Linked DNA regions of Homo sapiens. The protein of the gene in region 1 interacts with the protein of each later gene in a pairwise test. Each region holds a gene or a part of one and is shown on either strand. Other genes may lie near its edges.

Region 1 (3,933 bases):
CTGGCTGGGTTGGGGGAATCTCCTCACTCCACTGCCACAGAGCTGCCAAGTTCAGGCCTTTGGAGCAATAAACAGAAGTCAGGTGCACCTTAGTCTGGAAGATCCCTAAAAGAGTTAGTTCATCAGTCTTTAGTTTTTTAGTAGGATTAAACTTAGACCATCCTAATGAGATACAAATTGCCCGTTCAAGTGGAGACTGGTCTTAGACAAGGACCATCACTGCACCAGTCCCCTCTGCTCTTTCTTGCTGCAGTTGTGGTTTGCTGTTTGTTCATTGGGAGAATAAGGCCTTTATCTTCCTCTTTTCTCAGGATGTGGACAGTGCCTATATGAACAAGGTGGAGCTTCAGGCCAAAGTGGATGCCTTGATAGATGAGATCGACTTCTTAAGGACCCTCTACGACGCTGTAAGGATGTTACCTACTAAGAAGGGACAGAGGGAGAGTGAGGTGTTTCCAGATTTGAGGCTGGTGCATTTTGGTATATAGGCCCCAGAAGACATCTGGAATGAGCCTGGAGATGAGGACCCTTGGAAGGGATTCCACAGGATAAGCTGCAGACATGGGGTTCTCTGAGTGGCTGCGGACAGGGTGTGGCTGATACACATGTGGAGCAAGGAATCAGTGAATGAGACTGTTGATCAAGAGTCTTTCAGGGCCCTGTGTGCTTGTTACAGGGACCCCAAAAGTGAACAAGCTCCCTCTGTGTTGACAGGAGCTATCTCAGATGCAGAGCCACATCAGTGACACATCTGTGGTGCTGTCCATGGACAATAATCGCTCCCTGGACCTGGACAGCATCATTGCTGAAGTTCGTGCACAGTATGAGGATATCGCTCAGAGAAGCAAGGCCGAAGCTGAGGCCCTGTACCAGACCAAGGTGGGTGCTAGTCACCTCTTACGGGATCCACTGGAGGTTTCAGAGAGGCCATGGCCTATTGGACAGCTGGGTAGTGAGTTCCCAGTGGTCACTGGGTGAATGCCTTTTGGTTTTACCCTCTGAAGTCATCCTTCTAATGGTGGTTCAGTTGCAGAAAGTCTTGCCCCTGGGGGAGATGGTTGCCTGCTATGTGGGACTGACTCCAACTTGCTCAGGAACTACAGGGTAGGAAAATCTTCTACCACAACAACCCAGATGTTCTCTTTCCTGCTGCCTTGGGGGTTTCCCTGCTGAAACACAATGCAGTATCATTTTAGCAAATGCCTTACTGAGCTTCTGAAGGTTTGGTGGGTGATGTTGGAGGTGTAGAAACAAGTCAAGCAAAGCTGCAGGAATACCCCATCTTCCCTTCTGTTCTGCAGTTGGGGGAGCTGCAGACCACGGCTGGCAGGCATGGGGATGACCTAAGAAATACCAAGAGCGAGATCATAGAGCTCAACAGAATGATCCAGAGGCTGCGGGCAGAGATCGAGGGTGTCAAGAAGCAGGTGGGATGGTCATGGATGCTGGCACCTGGGATGATTGCTGAGGGGCAGGGGCTAGGATCTCAGGACTCCTCCCCTGGAATAGACGTCTGGAGGTCATCTCAGGCTGGCTGACCCACAGGGCAGTATCTCCACAAATGGAGACAAGATGGAGGCACTAGGGGAGGAGGAATGTTCCCTGACTTTAAGATGGGATAATCCATTGCATGTCAGGAAGGGCCTGGGGCCCTCTTACTGAGCTCATTCCTCCTACCTCCCTTGCCCCAGAATGCCAACCTGCAGACGGCCATTGCCGAGGCCGAGCAGCATGGAGAGATGGCCCTCAAGGATGCCAATGCCAAGCTCCAAGAGCTGCAGGCTGCTCTACAGCAGGCGAAGGATGACCTGGCGCGGCTGCTACGTGACTACCAGGAGCTGATGAATGTCAAGCTGGCCCTGGACGTGGAGATCGCCACCTACCGCAAGCTGCTGGAGGGCGAGGAGTACAGGTGAGCCTCCAGTCCCGTCTTCCCACACCCCCTGGCTCAAGTCATAGGCCAAGGGCCAGATAAGTGACCAAGTAACTGGGGATGGAGCCCTGCTGTATAAAGAGAGGCCTTGTGGTGAAGCATTTGCCTCTACCAGCCCACTCCCTCCCAGGGCACGTATGCAACCAGTGCCCACAGGCTCTCCTTGCTACAGCCCAAAGAGGGGTGGAGAAAGCTTACCTGATTTGCCAGGCTTCTCTGTTCAGCTCTGGTTGCTATTCATGCCCTTGGTCCGTGGACTTGTTGGTGATGTGCTTTGTGACGGGGCCCACTTTCTCTTGCTTTCTCAAACAGGATGTCTGGAGAGTGTCCGAGTGCTGTCAGCATCTGTAAGTACCGAAAGTAGCTAAGAAAATGAGAGTTAATTCTGAAATATCTGCACTAATCCAGGGTAGTAGCAACTAATTTAAACATATTTTTACGGAAGTTGGAGGGGTTTTCTGGGAGAGGAGAGGGAAGTGATTGGCTTTTGTAATTGTTCTGGGTTCAGGGCACTTTTAATAGGCTTCGACGGCCAATGTGGAATATCCAACAGGGGGCCTCTTGATAGGAGGATAAATTCAGACGCTAGATCCCCTCCAAGGGGGTCATCAAGACTGTACTGTGGGAGGAACCACTGGCTAATTCATAATGGCTTAACGGCAGGGGAGTGAGTAGCTAGTGGCCTTGGAACGGCTCGTGGTGAACATCCTGTGCAAAGCTGCCTTGATCAGCTCTGGATAGTCGTGGGCCCGGTGGATCATTGACAATAACATAGCAGCTGGCCTGGGCGCCGTCGCTGATCGCTGTCCTGTCCTCTCCCCCACAGCCGTGGTCAGCAGCAGCACGACTTCCGCCTCCGCAGGTGGCTATGGAGGAGGTTACGGCGGAGGCATGGGCGGTGGTTTAGGAGGTGGCTTCAGTGCGGGCGGCGGCTCAGGCAGTGGCTTTGGCCGGGGAGGCGGCGGTGGAATCGGCGGTGGATTTGGCGGCGGCAGCAGCGGTTTCAGCGGTGGCAGCGGCTTTGGCTCCATCTCTGGCGCCCGCTATGGAGTCAGTGGCGGGGGCTTCAGCTCGGCCAGCAACCGGGGCGGCAGCATCAAGTTCTCCCAGTCCTCCCAGTCCTCCCAGCGCTACTCCAGATAAAGAGCACGCATCAGCATCGCAGCCACTCCAGCGCCTCCCCTCCGCTCCCCACGCCCCCATATTGGCAACACCCCCAGCGCCACCCCATGCTCCCCAAGAACGCGGCTCTGCGCTGGAAGGCTTGTGGCCTCTTGCTCCTCCTTCCAGATCCCCGGCCAAGCCCAGTCACGAGAATTTCAGGCTCTTCTCTCCGGCTCCAGCCTGTGCCTGTGATTGTCCAGGTGTGGCCTAGGCCGCCACCTTCTGCTGCCCCGGAGTCCCCTCCCTGGGTGGGATGCTCACTACAGCTCTGATGTATATAGCACACAGCCCCCTCCGCCCCTCCGGTCTGTCGCCAATAAAGTGCACTGTGTTTCACTCCGGGCCTCTGAGTATTCGCTCCATGTCCTTCTCCTTAGGGCACTGAGCTCCCTGGTCACCTCCCTGGCCTCCCTGCCTCTGCCTCTCCCATGTGGGCTCTGTGATCCACAGAGCAGCTGGAGAACTCTTCCTCTGAAACAAAGGCAGTTCGTCTTCTCAGTCCATGGTGCGGATCCGGTTGTTCATTATTCTGTGAGCACCGTGGGGAGGGAGAGGTCCTGCTCCCCGACGCTGTTGTACCCTGTGTACCCTTACCGTCCTTAGTGGTGAAGGCTGGCCCATGCAGACATCTGTCTCCTCCCTGTCTTCTCTCATGTGGGGGAACTAAGAGGGCCTTGGGGACAGAGGGTTTCTTCCCTTGGTGTTGATTCTCACTCCAGCTGACATCGTGAAAGCTTTTCCCCCATCAAGGTGCTCCGGGAAAGTGCGGGCTGCTGGAAGCCCAGGGATGGAAATAGGCCCCAGAGCAGCCTATGTCAAAGTCTGACCCAGGAACA
Region 2 (2,722 bases), on another chromosome or scaffold:
GTCTCAATTTAAAAAGATCCCCATGGCCACAGGGCCCCTGCCTGGGGGCTTGTCACCTCCCCCACCTTCTTCCTGAGTCACTCCTGCAGCCTTGCTCCCTAACCTGCCCCACAGCCTTGCCTGGATTTCTATCTCCCTGGCTTGGTGCCAGTTCCTCCAAGTCGATGGCACCTCCCTCCCTCTCAACCACTTGAGCAAACTCCAAGACATCTTCTACCCCAACACCAGCAATTGTGCCAAGGGCCATTAGGCTCTCAGCATGACTATTTTTAGAGACCCTGTGTCTGTCACTGAAACCTTTTTTGTGGGAAACTATTCCTCCCATCTGCAACAGCTGCCCCTGCTGACTGCCCTTCTCTCCTCCCTCTCATCCCAGAGAAACAAGTCAGCTGGGAGCTTCTGCCCCCACTGCCTAGGGACCAACAGGGGCAGGAGGCAGTCACTGACCCCGAGACGTTTGCATCCTGCACAGCTAGAGATCCTTTATTAAAAGCACACTGTTGGTTTCTGCTCAGTTCTTTATTGATTGGTGTGCCGTTTTCTCTGGAAGCCTCTTAAGAACACAGTGGCGCAGGCTGGGTGGAGCCGTCCCCCCATGAAGTACAGGCAGACAAGTCCCCGCCCCAGCTGTGTGGCCTCAAGCCAGCCTTCCGCTCCTTGAAGCTGGTCTCCACACACTGCTGGTTCCGTCACCCCCTCCCAGGGAAGCAGGTCTGAGCAGCTTGTCCTGGCTGTGTCCATGTCAGAGCAACGGCCCAAGTCTGGGTCTGGGGGGGAAGGTGTCATGGAGCCCCCTACGATTCCCAGTCGTCCTCGTCCTCCTCTGCCTGTGGCTGCTGCGGTGGCGGCAAAGGAGGGATGGAGTCTGACACGCGGACAAAGGCTCCTCCGGGCCCCTCACCAGCCCCAGGTCCTTTCCCAGAGATGCCTGGAGGGAAAAGGCTGAGTGAGGGTGGTTGGTGGGAAACCCTGGTTCCCCCAGCCCCCGGAGACTTAAATACAGGAAGAAAAAGGCAGGACAGAATTACAATGTGCCGGCCCAGGGTGGGCAGCGGCCCTGCCTCCTACCCTTGCGCCTCATGACCAGCTTGTTGAAGAGATCCGACATCAAGTGCCCACCTTGGCTCGTGGCTCTCACTGCAACGGGAAAGCCACAGACTGGGGTGAAGAGTTCAGTCACATGCGACCGGTGGCTCCCTGTCCCCACCCCCATGACACTCCCCAGCCCTCCAAGGCCACTGTGTTTCCTAGTTAGCTCAGAGCCTCAGTCGATGCCTGACCCAGCACCGGGCACTGATGAGAAAGTGGCTGTTTGAGGAGCCACCTCCCAGCCACCTCGGGGACAGGGCCAGGGTGTGCAGCACCACTGTACGATGGGGAAACTGGCCCAGAGAGGTGAGGCAGCTTGCCTGGGGTCACAGAGCAAGGCAAAAGCAGCGCTGGGTACAAGCTCAAAACCATAGTGCCCAGGGCACTGCCGCTGCAGGCGCAGGCATCGCATCACACCAGTGTCTGCGTTCACAGCAGGCATCATCAGTAGCCTCCAGAGGCCTCAGGTCCAGTCTCTAAAAATATCTCAGGAGGCTGCAGTGGCTGACCATTGCCTTGGACCGCTCTTGGCAGTCGAAGAAGATTCTCCTGTCACAGTTTGAGCTGGGTGAGCTTAGAGAGGAAAGCTCCACTATGGCTCCCAAACCAGGAAGGAGCCATAGCCCAGGCAGGAGGGCTGAGGACCTCTGGTGGCGGCCCAGGGCTTCCAGCATGTGCCCTAGGGGAAGCAGGGGCCAGCTGGCAGGAGCAGGGGGTGGGCAGAAAGCACCCGGTGGACTCAGGGCTGGAGGGGAGGAGGCGATCTTGCCCAAGGCCCTCCAACCGCAGGCTCCAGGGCCCGCTCACCTTGCTCCTGCTCCTTCTGCTGCTGCTTCTCCAGCTTTCGCTCCTTCATGCTGCGCAGCTTGGCCTTGCCGATGCCCCCAGCTTGGCGGATGGACTCTAGCAGAGTGGCCCAGCCACCGGAGGGGTCGACCACTTCCCTGGGAGCTCCCTGGACTGGAGCCGGGAGGTGGGGAACAGGGCAAGGAGGAAAGGCTGCTCAGGCAGGGCTGGGGAAGCTTACTGTGTCCAAGAGCCTGCTGGGAGGGAAGTCACCTCCCCTCAAACGAGGAGCCCCGCGCTGGGGAGGCCGGACCTTTGGAGACTGTGTGGGGCCCGGGCACTGACTTCGGCAACCACCTGAGCGCGGGCATCCTGTGTGCAGATACTCCCTGCTTCCTCTCTAGCCCTCACCCTGCAGAGCTGGACCCCTGAGCTAGCCATGCTCTGACAGTCTCAGTTGCACACATGAGCCAGCAGAGGGGTTTTGTGCCACTTCTGGATGCTAGGGTTACACTGGGAGATACAGCAGTGAAGCTGAAATGAAAAATGTGTTGCTGTAGTTTGTTATTAGACCCCTTCTTTCCATTGGTTTAATTAGGAATGAGGAACCCAGAGCCTCACTTGTTCAGGCTCCCTCTGCCCTAGAAGTGAGAAGTCCAGAGCTCTACAGTTTGAAAGCCACTATTTTATGAACCAAGTAGAACAAGATATTTGAAATGGAAACTATTCAAAAAATTGAGAATTTCTGACCACTTAACAAACCCACAGAAAATCCACCCGAGTGCACTGAGCACGCCAGAAATCAGGTGGCCTCAAAGAGCTGCTCCCACCTGAAGGAGATGCGCTG

What was found.
Region 2: the proteins of KRT3 (region 1) and WASHC1 interact in a two-hybrid assay, tested with the Homo sapiens proteins (one large-scale study listed by BioGRID).

The regions. Positions count from the first base shown.
Region 1 is NC_000012.12:52,789,185-52,793,117, reverse strand, and holds the end of KRT3 (keratin, type II cytoskeletal 3), read left to right. Parts: intron 1-311; coding exon 312-407; intron 408-714; coding exon 715-879; intron 880-1,301; coding exon 1,302-1,427; intron 1,428-1,691; coding exon 1,692-1,912; intron 1,913-2,245; coding exon 2,246-2,280; intron 2,281-2,759; coding exon 2,760-3,076; 3' UTR 3,077-3,433; downstream 3,434-3,933.
Region 2 is NC_000009.12:14,013-16,734, forward strand, and holds the end of WASHC1 (WASH complex subunit 1), read right to left. Parts: coding exon 2,706-2,722; intron 2,050-2,705; coding exon 1,897-2,049; intron 1,138-1,896; coding exon 1,069-1,137; intron 929-1,068; coding exon 795-928; 3' UTR 501-794; downstream 1-500. UniProt on the Homo sapiens protein: Acts as a component of the WASH core complex that functions as a nucleation-promoting factor (NPF) at the surface of endosomes, where it recruits and activates the Arp2/3 complex to induce actin polymerization, playing a key role in the fission of tubules that serve as transport intermediates during endosome sorting.